2 linked regions of the Homo sapiens genome follow. The gene in region 1 interacts genetically with each later gene. Each region holds a gene or a part of one and is shown on either strand. Other genes may lie near its edges.

Region 1 (3,817 bases):
AAAGCTTTTTTTTTTTTTTTTTTTTTTTTTCAAATTTCCTCCTTCAAGATGCATGTTATATCTTCTGAATGGTGACTTACCCTTTCATTTTCATGAAACTTAACATCTGTCATAGTAATAATTCATTGCCTGTCGATATATCTATTTGGCCACTGAAAGGAAGGAGAAATGAAAAAGAAACTGACTCATAGGCTGAACCAAGAATAGAAGCACCGTTTAATATTCCAGTCATGCTTCATTGACCTAGTGCTGAACAGAAGTGTGGCTCAATCAAAAGGTCAAACAGAGGGTAGTTTATATTTTTAATCAAAGCTGAAAATACGGGTACATTTTACTTTGTAGAATAAACAGATGGCTGAAATATTATTTGAAAATATAAATGTAATTACATGTTTCAGTTGACTTATACTTTAAGGGCTGATTGGTCTTCAGTTTTTATTGACTTCCAGTTGGCAGGGACACCTAATGCTTTAAGAAAGCCCTGAGCCCTCTGTCAATTCATTTTAGTCAACAAATCTTTATTGAGCATCTGCTATGTGTGAGGCACTATTCTAAGTCCTGGAAAGAGAGCAGTGGTTACAGACAAAAATACCTACTCTCATAGGGTTTATATCTAATAGAGAATATAGATTATAAAATAAATAAATAAAAGACAAGGTGCCAAGCATGGTGGCTCATGCCTGTAATCCCACTACTTTGGGAGGCCAAGGCGGTCTGATCATTTGAGCCTAAGAGTTCGAGACCAGCCTGGGCAACATGGCAAAAACCCATCTCTACAAAAATTAGCGAGGAGTGCTGGCATGCACCTGTAGTCCCAACTACTCATGGAGGCTAAGGTGGGAGGATCATTTGGGCCTGGGAGGTAGAGGCTGTGGTGAGCTGAGATCATGCCACTGCACTCCAGTCTGGGGGACAGAGTAAGACCCTGTTTCAAAAAAAAAAAAAAGGCATATTAGACAGTGATAAGTGTTAAGGAGAAAAAGCAAGGAAGGAGGCTATGAGATATCAAGGAAAAGGTGAAGTTTAAAACAAGGTTTCCATCCAGGGAAGAGATCACTGAGGAGTTGACTTTTGGGTATAGACATGAAAGAAGTAAGAAAGCCAATTATGCAGGCATCTATAGAGGGGGAAAACGTTCTGGGTAAAGGGAATGGTAATTGCAAAGGCCTGGAGGCATGAGTGTGTTGAGGAAGAACTAAGAGGCTGGTTTGGCTAGAGAAGAGTAAATGAGAGTAGCAGGAGATGAGGTCAGAGAAGTGGGGAAGGAGACGGCAGATCATTTAGATTCTTCTGAGCTATTTGTAAAATATTGGGGTTTTACTGTGTGTGAAGTGGGAAGCAATTGTGCAGGGTTCTGAGCAGAGAGCTTCGATGTGATCTGGCTTACATTTAAATAGGACCATTTTGGCTGCTGCATTGAGAATAGACATGTGGTGTTAAGGGCAGAAGCAAAGAAACCAGTTAGGAGGTTTCAGTGATCTGACAAGACAGTAGTATCTTGGATCAAGATGATAGCACTGTATATTCTGGATATATTGTGAAGAAAGAGCTCATAGTCTTTGGAGTGAGAGAAAGGGAAGAGATGACTCCAAGGGTTTGGGCCTGAATAATCAGAAGAATGGAGTTGTCATGAATAAGACAAGGATACAAAAGGAGGGGCTGTTTGGGGGCCATATCAAGAACTCGCTTTTGTTCATAAGAGCAAGAATATAATACTGGTTGAGTATCCCTAATCTGAAATGCTTGGGACCAGAAGTGTTTCAGTTTGAAGATTTTTTTTTGGATTTTGGAATTAGTGGCTGAACCTCCCAAATCTGGAAATCTGAAATCTGAAATGCTTTAATGAGCATTTCCTTTGAATGTCATGTCAGTACTCAAAAAGCTTTGGATTTTGGAACATATTGGATTTTGGATTTTCAGATCTGAGATGCTCAACCTATAGTGGCTACCAGGGGCTGAGGGGTGGGGAAGATGAGGAGCTCTTGTTTAATGGGTATAAAGTTTCAGTTACATGGGATAAATCAGTTCTAGAGATCTGCTGTACAATGTAATGCCTATAGTTGATGATATTGTATTGTGCACTTCAAAATTTGTTAAGAGAGTAGATTTCATATTAAGTTTTCTTAATACGCACACAAAACAAACAAAAGGACACAAGGAAAGTATGGGAGGTGTTGGACATGTCTCCCTCCTTGGTTGTTGTGATTGTATCATGGGTATTTGCATACATCCAAACCCAGCACATTAATTATGTGATGGGTTATTACATATTTATTGCACATTTAATTCATCACATTAAATATGTACAATTCTTTGTATATCAGTTATACTTTGATACAGCTGTAGGAGGAAAAGGTACTCCGTTTTGGGCACTCTGAGTGCGAGATACCTTCAGGTATTCAATTGACCTTCAAGTAAGTACAGTCTAGAGCTCATTGGATGCTTATCATATGGCAGGAGGCACTTTTCTAGTGTTTTTTTTTTCACATGTAATTTCATGTAATCCTCAGCATCGTCAGAAATAGGTACTATTATTATCCTTCTTAGAGGAGGAAACAGGCCCAGAGAGGTTAAACTACTATTGCATTTTTACACAGCTAAGAAGAGGTGGGGCTCGGGTTTGAACCTGAGCTGTCTGACACCAGAGCACACATGGACTGCTTCTGTTGCAAACCTGTTGATGTGTTGGGTGAGCTCCTATTGAATGCTCTTGAATGAAGTTTATCTTTTAAAAGTTCACATGTTCATTTACCAGGATTTTATAGAGGGTGTGTTTCTAGCTCTGGCAGTCACACGCCCATGAATATCAGAGGCTCACCACCTCCAGGTGTACCTTTGTGGCTATAGGAAGGGTGGGGTTATTGCAAGTACTCCATTGGGCCGAGGGTGCTCTGCCCCCTTGTACAGTCTTGTTCTATACTGATCCATCTTGAGCTCTTCCTATTATCCTTATGCAAGCAGACATTTTCCATAAGGCACCAGGTTAGAGCTGGGAAAAATGGATCACCCAAAAACTGTGTTAACTCTGTTGAGCAACAGATTTTGTCCCCTGCATCTCAGTGAGTAGCGGAGATAAGAGGGTAGGGGATAGAGTCTTGCATCTCTGGGCGTATGGAGACATTGCTGCCAGACAGGCTGTTGGATTGGATGTGGTGCATGAGCCTGAGGAGAGCCCATCTCCTGTCTCAATGCCAGCTGTCCCTAGGGGTGGGAAGGAGGTGCCCAGGCCGACTACACCCTCCAGAGCTCCGCTCCTTGAGCAGAGGTGGCAGACCCACACATCCATCATCCAGCCCTAGTCTGTTCAGGAGCTCCTTCTCTGCAGCCAGCTTGGCTCCCAGGAAGGAAGACCAGCAGAACACTTAAACTTAATAACCCAGTAATGCAGTAAGTCCTACTTTGGGACAAGAGGAGGGACTTTGCTCTAACTCAGAACGTATACCTCCTTGAACGTGCCAAAATTCCTTTTTCCTTTATGACTGTTTAGTAAGTTAAAGTCCTTCATCTTTGCAGGTTCTTGCATTTGTCCCTATACCGACTTTATCACAGCTTGGTAAATGTGCCTTCCCTCTATGTTTGTGAGATGGCAGCACTGGTTTCAGGAAATCTGCTTGCTGTTATCTTAGTGTTTATAACTAAGGGATCCAAGTCAACTTTGTTGATTAAATGGACCAGGATGCATGGTTAAATAGGAACCCCATAATGAAATATCTACGGTTGATGTTTCTGAAAGATTGGGCATCCACTATGTTCTCGGGACACGCAGAAACACAGGGAAAAGAAAGCCAAGTTTGTGAACCATAAAAAACTTTTATTC
Region 2 (3,817 bases), on another chromosome or scaffold:
ACTGGCTCCAGGTGTGGGTCCCCTGCTGGGTTGGGGCTTGTGGGAGGTGGGACGGGGCTGGGGGTCCATCCCCCTAGGGGGAATTTGTGGCCTACCCCGAACCCTGTTTGAGCTCCTTTCCTAACTGACTCCCCGTCCCTGCACCTGTCTCCCAGCAGGCCTTGCCTCTGCATGCTGCCCCTGCCAGGCTCTGGGGTCCCTGTGCTCCCTGCAGCTAGAAGGCTGGGATCAGGGGTCTTAACAAGCAGCCCTACTGTATGACCTTGGACAAGTCCAAGAACCTTCAGGTTCTTAACAATGTAAAGGGAGCAGTACTAAAAGCAGCTTCTTGGAATTGTGGGGATCCGATGAGTGAAGGCTTAAGCAGTGCATGGCACATAGTAGGCCCTGAACCAATGCCAGTTAGTGTTATTATTATCACCATTTAGCCAGATGCAGTGGCTCACGCCTATAATCTTATTGACTTTAGAGGCTGAGGTTGGAGGATTGCTTGAGACCAGGAGTTCAAGACCAGCCTGGGCAACATAGCAAGGCCCTGTTTGTTTTAGAGAAAACAAACAAATCACCATTTAGAGCACCTAACCAGTACCTGGCACGCGATAGGTTTAGCTCAACAAATGTTAGCAGCAATTACCCAAGGAGCCTGTGCTGGAAGTTTCTAGGATGTACCAGGCTATGGTTCCAAGTTCTGAGCATCTACCATGTGGTGGTCTGGAGTTGGTGAGAGACAGGATGGGGCTGACTAGGCCAGTGGGGAGCACCCCCCGCCATGGGGAACAAGCACCCTATCCTTGGCTTCCATGGAAGATAATTGATGCTGGGCACAGTGGCTCACGCCTGTAATCCCAGCACTTTGGGAGGCTGAGGCAGGGGGATCGCTTGAGTCTGGGAGTTCAAGACCAGCCTGGGCAACATTGTGAGACCCAAACTAAAAAAATTAGCTTGGCATGGTGGAGTGTGCCTGTCGTCCCAGCTACTCAGGAGGCTGAGGCTAAAGCTGGAGGATTGCTTGAGCCCAGGAGGTTGAGGCTGCAGTGAGCCATGATCATACCACTACACTCCAGCCTGGGCAACATAGTGAGGCCCTGTCTCAAAACAAACAAACAAAAAGAACCTGCTGAGGAAGCAGTGTTTCTGGCTGGGGGAGGACGGGCAGAGTGGCCATCTGGCCACAGATGGCGGTTTCTGTGCAAAACACATCAAGGCAGCCTTGGAAATGTGAGTGAAAGCACCTTCAAAGTTCTGGTCACAGCCTTGGGACTAAGCAAAGCCACCAAAAGTACATAAAAGACAATGACCATCACCCAGTGCCGGTGATGCTAGAAGGAAAGGGAATACGTTGTAGGGAAGGTTGTAAAGGGCTTTATCTTTTCCAGACTGGAGCCTGGCAGCTCGAAAACATCTTGCTGCCTTCATATGAGCTTTAAAACAAGCTGCAGAGAAACAACTCAAGAGGGAGAAATATATATATATATGTGTGTGTGTGTGTATGTGTGAGTGTGTGTGTGTGTGTGTATACATATATATATATATATATATATATATATATTTTTTTTTTTTTTTAAGATGGAGTCTCGTTCTGTCACCAGGCTGGAGTGCAGTGGTACAATCTCGGCTCACTGCAACCTCCGCCTCCTGGGTTCAAATGATTCTCCTGCGTCAGCCTCCCAAGCAGCTGGGACTATAGGCACATACCACCACGCCCAGCTAATTTTTGTATTTTTAGTAGAGGCTGGATTTCACCATGTTGGCCAGGATGGTTTTGATCTCCTGACCTCGTGATCTGCCTGCCTTAGCCTCCCAAAGTGTTGGGATTACAGGCGTGAGCCAGTTTGTTTTTAGAGACGGGGTCTTGCTCTGTCACCCAGGCTGGAATACCATGGCACAATCACAGCTCGCTGCAATGTTGAACTCCCGGGTTCAAGGGATCCTCCCACCTCAGCCTCCAGAGTAATGGAGACTACAGGCTCATGCCACCATGCCCAGCTATTTTTAAAACTTTGTAGAGATGGGGCCTTGCTACATTGCCCAGGCTGGTCTTGAACTCCTGGGCTCAAGTGATCTGCCTGCCTTTGCCTCCCAAAGTGCTGTTATTACAGGTGTGAGCCCCTGCGCCTAACCTTAGCACTGCCATTTTGACTGAAAACAGGTGCCCAGCAGCAGGGGCTACTCCCAGAATTGCCACTGCATCAGGCCCGTGGGTTGTTTTCAGCTGCCAGTGATAAGTATGTGCCCTGGGCCACCTCTCGGACAAGGTGTCTGAATTGGTGCCGACCAGCATCACATGTAATTGCCATCTCGCAGGTGCTGCTGAGGGTAATTCCGCACACCTGTAGCTCCGGGAAGAGCCTAGTGGGGAGGAGGAAACGTGGCTCTGAGGTTTATAGGGTCAGACGGTCAGTATGTTGGGAGCTGGCATGTGGAGGGGCACAGACAAGGGAAGAATGGGAGGTGGCATCAGAGCAAGTTTTGATGGAGGAATAGGAATTCACCAGGTGGAAAGGGCATTCCTGGTGGAGGGAACAGCCTGGCCTTCAATAGCTTGTGGTGTTCAGAAAGCAGGCAGGGAAAGGGAGGCCCAGGGAGACACCAGTTAGGGGATGGGGGTGGAGGCAGACGAGGGTGGAGGAAGCCATGGCTGGAGTCTGCACGGCCTCTGACTGGGGTCCCTGCTGTGGTCAGCCCTGTGCTGGGTGAGGCTGGGGTCACAGCTGGTTCAGGCCCTGACAGGAGGGGCCCCCAGCTGAGGCCCAGCCTCTAATTTGGCAGGGCAGGTGGATAGGTCTGGGGGGGTGGTGGTTAGGAAGCCTCCAGGAGGAGGCAGTGCCGGAGCTGAGCCTTAAAGAGCTTCGTGTTGTCCTCTCTGTCTTTGCACTCTGCACACACTCACTGAACTGCGACAAATGAGGATAGCTGGTCAGGGCAGAGGCAGGCCGGAGTTGGGGCTCACTGCTGTCCCCCACAGGCTGGGGCTGAAGGGCAGGCTCTGGGGCCGCAGAATGGGGTTTGTGTACCAGATTCTTCATATGGCAGCTGTGGGACTTTGGGCACGAGGCCTCCGTCTGAGCCTTAGTTTCCTCAAGAGGACCTGCGCCCAGGTGCACCTGGGGCTCCAGCCATGGGTGCGTCCCATTCCGGGAAGAGCTGGCACACACTTGTGCCCCCGGGGCAGCCATGAGTGCACAAAGGGCAGCCTGTGCCACTGCTGGATACACGACCAGCTGAGAACACGAGGACCGCCGACTCCAGTTAGGAGGATCAAGGAAGTGCCTGGTGGGAGCAGAACAGCAGGTGGGGTGCAGCCCAGCTCCCTGGAGGGATGGTGGGCACCCATCCTCACCCTGCTGCCTCCATTAGCAGGCCGAGAGGGTGTGCTCTGGAATCCCATGAGCACCTGTGCCACATCCTCCCCTGTGGCTGACCCTTCTTCACAGTTGGTGCAGCTTTGTGGTCTGTAGTGCAGGGATCAATTGGCAAATCCCTTTCCCACCCATTCCCTGGAGAATTGGGGTCCTTGGCTCAGATGACAGACCAACCTGAGTTGGAATCCCAGCTCCTTGGTGGCCGTCCTGGCCTCCACCCCCTCACTGCCTCCGCTCCTCCTATCCTGCCCACGCCCACTGCAGGGCCTTTGCACACACTGTTTCTTCTGCCCTCCCTTCCGGCCCACTCCCTCATATCATTCAGTCCTCCTTTCAGATGTCACCTCCTAAGATGGGCTGCCCTGACCACCTCATCTATAATGGCCCCAGTGCCTGGCACAGGATTGGCACACAGTAGATATTGTCAGAGATGGATCTGGGTTCTGTGGACAAGG

What was found.
Region 2: changes in ENDOD1 (region 1) and SREBF1 together harm fitness more than expected from each alone (negative genetic interaction), as found in Homo sapiens cells (one large-scale study listed by BioGRID).

Annotation. Positions count from the first base shown.
Region 1 is NC_000011.10:95,096,223-95,100,039, forward strand, and holds part of ENDOD1 (endonuclease domain-containing 1 protein precursor), read left to right. Parts: intron 1-3,817. UniProt on the Homo sapiens protein: May act as a DNase and a RNase. Plays a role in the modulation of innate immune signaling through the cGAS-STING pathway by interacting with RNF26.
Region 2 is NC_000017.11:17,826,938-17,830,754, reverse strand, and holds part of SREBF1 (sterol regulatory element-binding protein 1), read left to right. Parts: intron 1-3,817.